3 linked regions of the Homo sapiens genome follow. The protein of the gene in region 3 interacts with the protein of the main gene of each other region in a pairwise test. Each region holds a gene or a part of one and is shown on either strand. Other genes may lie near its edges. The genes, in order: NUDT3, FAM118B and ITFG1.

Evidence for each region.
Region 1: the proteins of ITFG1 (region 3) and NUDT3 interact in a two-hybrid assay, tested with the Homo sapiens proteins (one large-scale study listed by BioGRID and IntAct).
Region 2: the proteins of ITFG1 (region 3) and FAM118B interact in a two-hybrid assay, tested with the Homo sapiens proteins (one large-scale study listed by BioGRID and IntAct).

What each region holds. Positions count from the first base shown.
Region 1 is NC_000006.12:34,389,870-34,393,836, forward strand, and holds the start of NUDT3 (diphosphoinositol polyphosphate phosphohydrolase 1), read right to left. Parts: upstream 2,801-3,967; 5' UTR 2,494-2,800; coding exon 2,395-2,493; intron 1-2,394. UniProt on the Homo sapiens protein: Cleaves a beta-phosphate from the diphosphate groups in PP-InsP5 (diphosphoinositol pentakisphosphate) and [PP]2-InsP4 (bisdiphosphoinositol tetrakisphosphate), suggesting that it may play a role in signal transduction.
Region 2 is NC_000011.10:126,239,078-126,242,802, forward strand, and holds part of FAM118B (protein FAM118B), read left to right. Parts: intron 1-1,714; coding exon 1,715-1,967; intron 1,968-3,725. UniProt on the Homo sapiens protein: May play a role in Cajal bodies formation.
Region 3 is NC_000016.10:47,454,339-47,458,063, forward strand, and holds part of ITFG1 (T-cell immunomodulatory protein isoform 1 precursor), read right to left. Parts: intron 1-3,725. UniProt on the Homo sapiens protein: Modulator of T-cell function. Has a protective effect in graft versus host disease model.

The sequences.
Region 1 (3,967 bases), on a different chromosome or scaffold from region 3:
AGGAGAATGGCGTGAATCCGGGAGGCGGAGCTTGCAGTGAGCCGAGATGGTGCCACTGCACTCCACCATGGGCGACAGAGCAAGACTCTGTCTCAAAAAAAAAAAAAAATACAGAAAACTAGCCAAGCATTATGGCAGGTGCCTGTAATCCCAGCTACTCGGGAGGCTGAGGCAGGGAGAACAGCTTGAACCCGGGAGGTGGAGGTTGCAATGAGCCGAGATCACGCCACTGCACTCCAGCCTGGGCGAAAGAGCGAGACTCCGTCTCAAAATAAATAAATAAATAAAAATAAGTAAATAAATAAAATTTTAAAAATAAAAATGCAAGCTCCTAGAATCGCCTGAACCTGGGAGGCAGAGGTTGCAGTGAGCCAAGATGGGGCCACTGCACTCCAGCCTGGGCGACATAGCAAGAGTCGGTCTCAAAAAAAAAAAAGAAAAAAAGTAAGCTCCTAGAAGGCAAGTCCTATGCCTGGTCTGACTTGTGAGATGCCGTGAGGTAGCCTAAACAGACAAGTAAGCTTTCAACATTAATGTTGCTAATGTCAGTGCATAACAAAACATTTAACAGAAAATGGAAAATTAAGCCGTTGCTAGTTTGCTTATGATCTATAGTTTTCAATTTATCAAAAATACATTTTCTATTTCTAGTATGATTTATTATTATTATTTTTTTTTATATTTAGAGATGGGGATCTGTGTTGGCCAGGTTGGTCTCGAACTCTTGGCCTCACCACCTTGGTCTCCTGAAGTGCTAGGATTACAGGCGTGAGCCACCACGCCCGGCCTGGTGTGATTTTTTTAAAACAAACAGTCTTGCATCATTCGTACAACTAAATTATACTTATAATTGGGGTGCTCACAGATTTATGCATACTAGTGTAGTAAGACATGCTATTATGCTAATTAGTTTTCCCTTCAGTTAAGAGCCTGTGATCCCATCTGATTTCCCATAACATGATATGATAATGAGGAGAATAAAGGCTCTGGAGCAATAAGCACCACCAATAATTTTACTTTACTCAAATATGCATTCCAAAACAGTATATAATTTACAGCATGGCCCTGGTTAGCTATTACAATGCATCTGTTTTGGGGACTTTTACAATATATGGTAGGATACAAAGCATACGTTTCCAAATCTCCTTTCGTTCTGTTTTGCTGAAAGGGAGCACACATGGGATCCCTTAACAACACAATTCACTAACTAATTTTCTTCAGGCAGTAATTCAAATTCCCACTTCCTCCTAAATACCTCTGGACAGCAACTCCTGGCAATCCATCTGTCTCTTTCGCCACAGCTTCTTTTCATAACTAACGGGTCAAGTTCCTTTCCCCATTTCGACACTGCACTGTACTGCGGCCCTGCCACCATAGCCCACTGCTGAATCCAATATAACATATTGGATTTCACTGTCCTTCATTGTTTCCAGTTTAACTGCCATTTTACCACCATGCACACGAGAAATGCATTCCCACAGGCATCTTATGAATTTCCAAAGCAGCTACTCTTTTGTGGATTTACAAAACATGTGCTTCTCTGAATTCCCTTCATCACCACAGAAACGGCTTTGGGAAGCCGAGATTTTTTTTTAAAGTACCCTACCTATTATAAAAAGAAACTGATTCTAAAACATTATTTTCCTAGCTAATTTAATCCTAAGAGTCTTCCCACAAGGCAGTGGAGGAACGTCAGGGCAAAAATGTTAAATACCGCTTTTGGTCTTCCCAATTAACATGAAACATTTTCAGCACACAAAGATTATTATATCAAATGTCTTTTCTTCTCAGACTACACCATAAAGGCTACCCAGCGCACTGTAAAATAAACAGCTGGCTATGGCTTATGCACAACGCCCTAAATCTTCCGAAGACACCCCACCCCCACCCCTCAGCTTTGGGCTCACAGACATATAATCCCTCGGCAAACCCCAAACCTGCCAATGAAGTGCACTATTTCTCTGCCACAAAGGCCGGCCCGCGCCTCGTGCACGCCGGCCTCCGCACACATGTGCCTGGCTGACAACTGCGGAGCGGCCCTTCCAGGATCAAAGCCGTTGGCCTGGACCGAAAGCCGCACTCTTCCCAGCCCACTGCCTTCTCCCGCGGCCGCTCTCCCCGGTAACAGGCGGCGGAACCGAAGCGCTCCGGCCACAAGCCGGCTACCCCCTCCGCCCGGCGCGCCCTGTGCAGCCGCACTCAAACCCGCTTCCCCTCAGCCCCAACGTCCTTTCTCCTTCCCCCTTTTTTCGCCTCAGGAAATTCCATCGGAACTTCATTCCGCCCGAGCGGGGCGGCCCTGGCACACCCTCCTCCGGCGGCCGCGCCCCTCGCGCCTCCACCCGAAGGGGCCGGAGACCCGGCGACCCCGGCCCGCCCAGCCTGCCGCCTCACCTCCTCCTCGCTCTCGCTGCGGAAACACAGGCATGCGGCCCGCTTCTTGTAGCCGTCGCCGTCGTAGGTGCGGGTCTGGTTCGACTTGAGCTTCATCATCCTCCGGGCCCGGGTGGGGGTGCGGTGCGGGTCGCAGGAGTCGAGGGGTGGGGAGCCCGCTCTGGACGGCCGCGTGCGCGCGCGCCCCCGGCTCGGCCAAGGGAAGCAGGGAGGGGGAGCTTCTCCGCTACACGGCTCCGCCGCTGGCCCGCCGCGGCCGCCTCATTCCCCCAGGCCCAGGTCCCGCGCCGCCGCTGCCACCGTCACGGCTGCCGTCTCCGCTGCCGCCAGGGCCGCCGCCCCCTCTGCCGCCGCCACCCCCGACGACGACCGCGCCGCCATCTTGGGCGCGATGCGTCAGCGGCGTAAGGCTGCACCGGCCTGCGGGACGGCCGCGCGCTCGCAGCGCAGGCCGCGTTCGCGAATCGCGCCCTCCCAGTTCGCGCGGTGGAAACCAGCATCTGAAAGGAGAGGGACGCGCGACTCCAGGCGACCGCTACGCCGGCAGCGTAGGCGTAGAACTGGTGGGGTGCGCGGAGGAAGCCGGGGGAGATAAGAACAGCGGCGCAGGACGCCTAGCGGCCGGAGCGGAGACCGAGCGGTCCAGCCGCGCAAGTCTGCGGATGGGGAAGCGGGGACTTGGCCAAGGTCACGCCGCGTCTCCGCGGCCGAGGATGAACCAAGGTCACGCCACCCGCCCCTGGGCCCTGCCGGTCGGTCTCGAAGGGGTTGAGGGGGAAGGTTTGTTGGAAAAAGGAGGATGTAGTTAAAGGCAACGGAAGCTGCAGCCTGAGACATCTGGGATTTGGAACTGCAAGGAAACGGCGCATGGGAGGCGTGTGCACTTTGCGTTGATAGCCTGAACCTCAGGATGTCTTAGGGGCTGGTGCATGTCGCCCATTACAAAGAACAAATATTTATTCTGCAATCTTTTATTGATGCTAAAGGTAATTGCTTCCTCTTATGGTAAACAAGAGGGCCAGAAAGGAACACGCGCGCGTGCGTGCGTGTGTACACACATAATGTAAATCATAAAACATCATCGTTTCTGGCAATAAATGAGGAGTGTGTGTTGTGGATGTCAAACAGATTCTCCAGGAAAAGATATACAGACAGAAGCTCTCCAGAAAGGAAAACTGGTGTATGACCTGTGAATGTTCTCAGCAACCCAGAACAAACCAAGTACCATGCAGATGCCCTAAACGTACCAAAAATCCTGTGCAGTATCTGTCTGTGAGTTGTTTAATACCCTTTTTTGTTTTTTAAATTTTTTTATTTAATTTTTTAAAATTTTTTTATTTAACATTTTGTTGCCCGGGCTGGTCCGGAATTCCTGGCCTCGAAGCTATCCACCCTCGGCCTCCCAAAGCACTGGGATTACTGGTGTGAGCCACAGCAGCCGGCTAATTCCCCTTTTTGAATTTGCTTGTATTTAGCATAGTCAAAAAGATCTGGATTTGAAAGCAAATACACCTTGGTTGTAACCTCAATTACATTTTTTTTAATGCTCATACCACCCGATTACATCATATTT
Region 2 (3,725 bases), on a different chromosome or scaffold from region 3:
TCCTCCCGTGAACTTAGCCTCCCAGGTAGCTGGGACTACAGACGTGCCTAATTTTCTTTTTCGTTCTTTCTTTGTTTGGCAGAGATGGGGTCTCACTAAGTTGCCTAGGCTTGTCTCAAACTCCTGGGCTCAAGCTCAGCCTCCTAAAGTGCTGAGATTACAGGCATGAACCACTGCACTTAGCCAAATTGGAAGTCTTAATTAGGAAGAATTATAGTTCAAATCTGTATGTTATATAAAAAAATACAGTACAACAGTATAAAATGAAAAGTAAAAAGTCCTTATTCTCTGCTATCCCCATTTAACCACTATTTATACATCTTGTGAATCCTAGAAATTTTCTATGTGTGTGTATATTTGTTTATGTGGATTTGTGTATGCTTCACTATCTTGATTGCTCTGAACTGAAACTCATTTTTCATCATTTGCTTCTAACATCTATTATTAATGTCTTTTCTAGTAGACTGATCTTTCAAGATCAGGGACTCCATTTTGTTCATGGATACATGACTCCCGTAGTGTCTGGTACATACAGGTTTTCCTTTCCTGCCTCAGCCTCCCTAGTAGCTGGGACTACAGGTGTGCGCCACCAGACCCAGCTAATTTTTGTATTTTTAGTAGACACAGAGTTTCACCATGTTGGCCAGGCTGGTCTTGAACTCCTGACCTCAAGTAATCAGCCCACCTTGGCCCCCCAAAGTGCTGGGATTACAGGCGTGAGCCACTGCTCCTGGCCTCGGTTTTTCATATTTGTTGAATGACTGAATGCAGAAGCTCGGGTTAGGGAAAGCAGTTTTAGAGGCTGTGTCCCCAAAACCAGGTTTCCCAAGGCTTGAAAGTGCTATTCCTTTCTTGAGTTATGCCAAAATGCTGATCCTCTCCATTTTATTATTTAGACAAAAAGGTTGGGGAGAAGCCATTTTCAGGGGAGGGGAACATGCCATCAGCAAAAATTAATGTGAAGGAACATATTTCAAGCAGGGATAGTCTCCAGAATGAAAGAGAGGGGAACAAAAACAAAAATTAGCACCCATGCTGTCTCACATATGGGCCTCAGAACAGAGAAGTCTGTCTCTGCTTATCATGGTAAGAAAGGAATGTTTTTCACTTTTTGTCATGTCCTTTGATTAGTTAATGTCTTTATTTAGGTATGTAGGGCCCCTGTGTTTTCAGAATTCTATTGGCCACTTTTTTTTTCTTTTTTTTTTTTGCCTGAGGTTAATGTTTACAAAATTCAGAATTAAATTTTGTATTGCCTTTCCCCTAGTGTTTTACATTTCTCAATAATAGGAACTTAATTTGTCCTGGGGTTCTTTTCTCTTTTTCTAGAGTACAAATCAAACGTCTTCTTTTGAAATTTAATACTGGTTTAAAATATAATTTAGTTGGCAGAAGTCAGCTGAGCTATAGTCTATTTGGATCTTTTCCTAATATTAGTGGAATTTCTTAGGTTGAGAGGACTAGGAAGGGAAAACTGATTTTAAGATTGGTTTTGGGATTCCTGAAATAGGTTTATGACTTGTTTTTCAGCAAGCACTGACACAATATTCTGGTTGTTTTCTTTAAACTGCTTTGGAAAGGTGTCAAAAACTGCTGTTCATCTTCTTTGCAACTATAAAAGTTAGCTAAAAACTGTAACCTGAGTCAGACAGTCTTTCTGTGTGCCTCATATCTATTGGATATTCCAATCCTCTCATTTGTTTTGCTTTTATAGGAAGCTGCTTCCAAGCTTAAAAACTAAGAAGCCTCGAGAACTTGTGCTAGTGATTGGAACAGGCATTAGTGCTGCAGTTGCGCCCCAAGTTCCAGCCCTCAAATCCTGGAAGGGGTTAATTCAGGCCTTACTGGATGCTGCCATTGATTTTGATCTTTTAGAAGATGAGGAGAGCAAAAAGTTTCAGAAATGTCTCCATGAAGACAAGAACCTGGTCCATGTTGCCCATGACCTTATCCAGAAACTCTCTCCTGTGAGTACCCTAGTATGTGCCACAGTATTTGGAATTTCCTAAAATTTAACTATCACAACTAGCATGATTTGGCTGTCAAAACTAGCATGCCAAATGTAACAGGGATATTCATTTACAGCTTGTAGGTTTCCATAACATTTGACTCTTCTGCGCAATGTCTGTTTATGGACCCTACTCAGGACAGTTGTCTTAACCCCATTTCACTGTGTGTCTATGAGAGAGAAATGATGTTGAGGACTTTATATGTACAAATTACCACTGTGTTTTGAATTTATTTTTTTCCTGCATCACTACTATAAAAGCTGTGTTCTGTGGCATCCATGCCTTGTATGGAATCCCACAAAGATTGGAGATAATTTTATCATTTTATACATGAAACAAAACCAGTTTTTAGTGTTCTTTTTAGAGGTAATAAGTCAAAATATTTAGAAGGAATTGCACCTTATTTTACCAAACTGAGTTGGATAAAAGGACTCCCTGTCTTGCTTTGTCTGAAAATTTATTTATTTATTTATTTATTTTTTGATGGAATCTTCTTCTTGTCACCCAGGCTGAAGTTCAGTGGTTCGATCTCGCCTCATGGCAGCCTCCGCCTCCTGGGTTCAAGCGATTCTCCTGTCTCAGCCTCCTGAGTAGGTGGGATTACAGGCATGTGCCACCATGCCCAGCTAATTTTTGTATTTTTAGTAGAGACAGGGTTTTGCCATGTTGGTCAAGCTGGTCTCGAACTTCTGACCTCAAGTGATCTGCCCACCTCAGCCTCACAAAGTGCTGGGATTATAGGCATGAGCCACTGCACCCAGCCTGTTTTAAAATCTTAAAAATCAGGCTTCTAGGGCCAGGCGTGGTGGGCACCTGTAATCCCAGCTGCTCAGGAGGCTGAGGCAGGAGAATGGCTTGAACCCGGGAGGTGGAGGTTGCACTGAGTTGCGGTCGCGCCACTGCACTCCAGCCTGGGCGACAGAGGAAGACTCCGTCTCAAAAAAAAAAAAAAAAAAAGGAATTAATGGGGTTTTAAAGAGTTCATGGAATCTCCATACACTTTATAAAAATTAAAAATGGATCAAAGACCTAAATATGATACCTAAAACTGTAAAACTCTTAGAAGAAAATACAGATTTAAAATTTCATGACTGGATCTGGCAGTGGTTTTTTAGACATGACACCAAAAATGCAAAAAACTAAAGTAAAAAAAAATATAGATAAACTGGACTTCTCCAAAGTTAAAAACTGTTAGGCTGAAAGGACACTGTCAAGAAAGTGAGCCGGGGATGGTGGCTCATGCCTATAATCCCAGAACTTTGGGAGGCCAAGGCAGGAGAACTGCTTGAGGGCATGAGTTCAAGACCAGCCTGGACAACATAGTGAGACCCTGTCTCTACCAAAAGAAAAAAAAAAGTGAAAAGACAGCTTCCAGAATGAGAAAATGTTAGCAAATCACATATCTCATAGGCGTATAATATCCAGAATCTATAAAGAACTACTGTAACTTAATAAAGGCTAATAATTCAATTTTAAAATAACGATGTAGTTGAATAGACATTTCTCCAAAGAAGATACACAAACGGCCAATAAGTGCATACGAAAAGATGTTCAGCGTCATTAGTCATTAGGAAAATACAAATCAAAACCACAACAAGGTGCCATTTCACACCCGCTGGCATGACTAGAATCAAGAAGACAATAATAAGTGTTATTAAGGATGTGGAGAAATTGGAACCTTTGTGGGAATGTAAAGTGATGCAGTTGCTTTGGAAA
Region 3 (3,725 bases):
AGTTCAGAATGAATGCAGAATAGTCTCAAGAAACAAGACAAATCTGAAATATGTCGAGAGAAAACGTGTTTATTATGTTCAAGCAATGGCTAGTATAGCCCTTCTATATAGTTCCTTTGTCAAGGACACCAAGACATTCGGATGGTGTTTCTAACAAATGGAGGCTCATAATTGCCAAAGCAGTAAGCATTATCACTGGGATGTTTTCAATTAAAAGATATTATTTATAAAATATTTAGTTTGGATTTTAACATAAATTCAAAATTTACAGTAAAAATTAAAAGAATCATTTTATTTCTGAAAGCTAGTAAATTAAGAATGGAATTTTTTTTAACGAAACTTGGCAATCAATATAGCATCCAAACATATATATCTAACTTTATATGTATATTTTTATTTTTTCCTTTTCATAGGTATTGATATATTTTTATTAACAAAATAATTCTAAAATTATTTATATGAATCTTGAAAGCTTAACGTCCTGCAGTCTTATTATCTGAGCGACCCAAGCAAAAATTAGGCCTTTAATTCATTTTATACTTAATTCTACTCAGATGAAATAGCAAGACAGCAAATTTCCAATTAGACTATAGATAATTACTTTCTTAATGCATCAGTGGTAGTTCTTTCTCCCTCTCACTCAGCAAGGTAAGAACCAAGTGGTGTATTTCTGGAAAGTCTCAGGAATTAAGGATTTAAATTACAGTAATGGGTAAGGTTTTGGCCTTAAGCTAGACACAGGAGTTAACCAAAAGTCTACAAAAGGAACAATTTAACCCTTGCCCACAGCTCTACCCTATTTCTAGAATGTTAGTCTGTCAAGAACATACATGCAGGGCAAAAGATAGTAGACTAGTCCCACTAGGCAATACATTTCCAATTATTTCTTTTGCACCTTACTTGAAAATGTGAGTAGACACCTGCCTTCTGAAGAAAACTTTGACTATTAAAGAGAGCTAAAACAAATAGCAATAAGGAACCTGAAGAAAACAGAACTAATGCAACAAAAGAAAACTTCAAAATTACACTTAAGAGAAAAAAGTCTGTCTATAAAAAAAAAAACAAACCAACAACAGTATGCTAAAAGACAACATCAGTAAGAAAACAAAAGAAAAACCTCGGAAATTAAAAATGTGACACCTGGCTGGGCGCGGTGGTTCACGCCTGTAATCCCAGCACTTTGGGAGGTGGAGGTGGAGGTGGGTGGATCACTTGAGGTCAGGAATTTGAGACCAGCCTGGCCAACATTGCAAAACCCTGTCACTATTAAAAATACAAAAAGTAGCCAGGCGTGGTGGCGTGCATCTCTAATCCCAGCTACTTGGGAGGTTGAGGCAGGAGAATCGCTTGAACCCAGGAGGTGGAGATTGCAGTGAGCCAAGATTGGACCATTGCACTCTATCTAGCCTGGGCAACAGAGCAAGACTCCATCCCCCACCAAAAAAAAAAAAAAAAAAAAAAGGACTTAGAATTTAAAAGAGAAAGTTGAGAAAACCTCCTGCAAAGGAAAATAAAACAAAACTAAATGATAAAAATAAGAAACAGATAAGATAAAGGAATAAAGGATGAACCCAGGCAGACTAATCAACTGATAGAAACTCCTAAAAGAGACAAAAAAATTTTTCAAAGAAATATTTAATAATGTAAGAGTATTTCAAAAAGCTCCCAAGGATAGAGGCCTCTAGCTTGAAAGGGCCCACATAATGCCTAGCATAATAAGTAAAGAATAATCATTCCTGTAATTGCAGCACTTTGGGAGGCGAAGGTGGGAGGACAGCTTGAGCCCAGGATTAGGTGCCTACAGTGAGCTATGACTGTGTGACTGCACTCCTTTTTCACCTGGGTGATAGAGAAAGACCCTGTCTTTATCAAAAAAGAAAAACAAATCTATACCAAGGCACATCATCATGAAATCAGAACAAAATAGAAAAAGAAGAGACTCCAATAGCTTCCAAAATTAAAACAATTTACATTTAAAAGATTAGGAGAAAGAAGAGGGTTGAATTTTAAAACTGCAACCCATGAAGCTAGAACACAATAAGCTAACCAAACTTTTAAGAGTGGGTAGATGCCGGGCGCGGTGGCTCATGCCTACAATCCTAGCACTTTGGGAGGCCAAGGCAGGTGGATTGCCTGAGCTCAGGAGTTTTGACACCAGCCCGGGCAACACGGTGAAACCCTGTCTCTACTAAAATACTACAAAATTCGCTGGGCGTGGCGTTGTGCACCTGTAGTCCCAGCTACTCAGGAGGCTGAGGCAGGAGAATTGCTAGAACCAGGGAGGTGGAGGTTCCAGTGAGCTGAGCTTGTGCCACTGCACTCCAGCCTGGGAAACAGAGTGAGACTCTGTCTCTAAAAAAAAAAAAAAAAAAAAGTGGGTAGAAAAACTTTTTGGATGTGACAGGACTTATCAGGCATCCTTTCTCAGGAATTTCTGGAAAGACACACCCCCGTGAAGTAAATGAGGAAATTTCTTTTTTTACATGGGGAAATTCCCCACATAGTAAGTCTACAAAAGGCCTGGAGAATGAATCCAGACTGGATAGGAATGTAGAGGATCCAATGGGAAAAACAAAAATGCAGGATAGGTATATGGCAGATATGATGGAATATCTGCAAAGAAATTAAGGGTATGTACATAGAAAACTATGCAATCTATTTTTTAAAAAGCAATCATTTATTCCAGTAGGGCAAGCTGCACAAAAAATGAAATACTGTCCCAGCACTTTGGGAGGCCGAGGCAGGTGGATCACCTGAGGTCGGGAGCTCGAGACCAGCCTGGCCAACATGGTGAAATCCCATCTCTACTAAAAATACAAAAAATTAGCTAGGCATGGTGGCAGGCACCTGTAATCCCAGCTACTTGGGAGACTGAGGTGGGAGAATAGCTTGAACCCGGGAGGCAAAGGTTGCAGTGAGCTGAGATGATGCCAAGGCACTCCAGCCTGGGCAACAGAGTGAGACTCTGTCTCAAGAAAAAAAAAAAAAGAAAAAGAAAAGAAATACTGTACATTACTTGGTTCTGAAGTACATAGACACCACATGGTTAAAAGGTAAACAATGATTACTAATTTAACAAAAAATTATGATTTAATTACACTGGGACAATGTAGATAAATTATGTTAGTTAAAAAACAAGAATTGAATATTTAAAAATGATAATTCAAGAAAATTAGTGTAAAATTTTATTTTAAAATATGGTAATAAACACTAGAAGAATCAGCTACAGGTTTTAAAAGTGGTTGCATCTGAGAGAGAAACAGGGGTGTGGGGGAGAATAAGGGTGAAGAATAGTTATTTTTACTTTGAAAAATATTTTAAATTATAACACAAACAAGAGTTTCTAAATTTTGAAAGTGCATTGCATTAATAAAAAAATTAATTGGGATATTTGTTTTAACTTATCAGAACACATGCCATTTACATCTTTTAAATTTCCTTAATTTCTAATAAAAAAAAAATCACCTCTATGCAGTTAGTTCACTTCTCATATACACTCAACTTCAGTTTCTTCCCCACTCCAAGCATGCTGACATTCACTACCCAAAAACACTTCTCAAGGGAAATAAGTTCCTGTTTATCCATTTATAACTTTCCCCTCAAAGTTCTAGTTCAAGGCCATTTTTCTTTTTAACATGAGTTTGAGTTTACTCAAAATACTGTAGAGTCTGAGAACTAATCAGCCCACACAGGGACTTTTTAAATACAGCTTCCTAAGTAGTCTT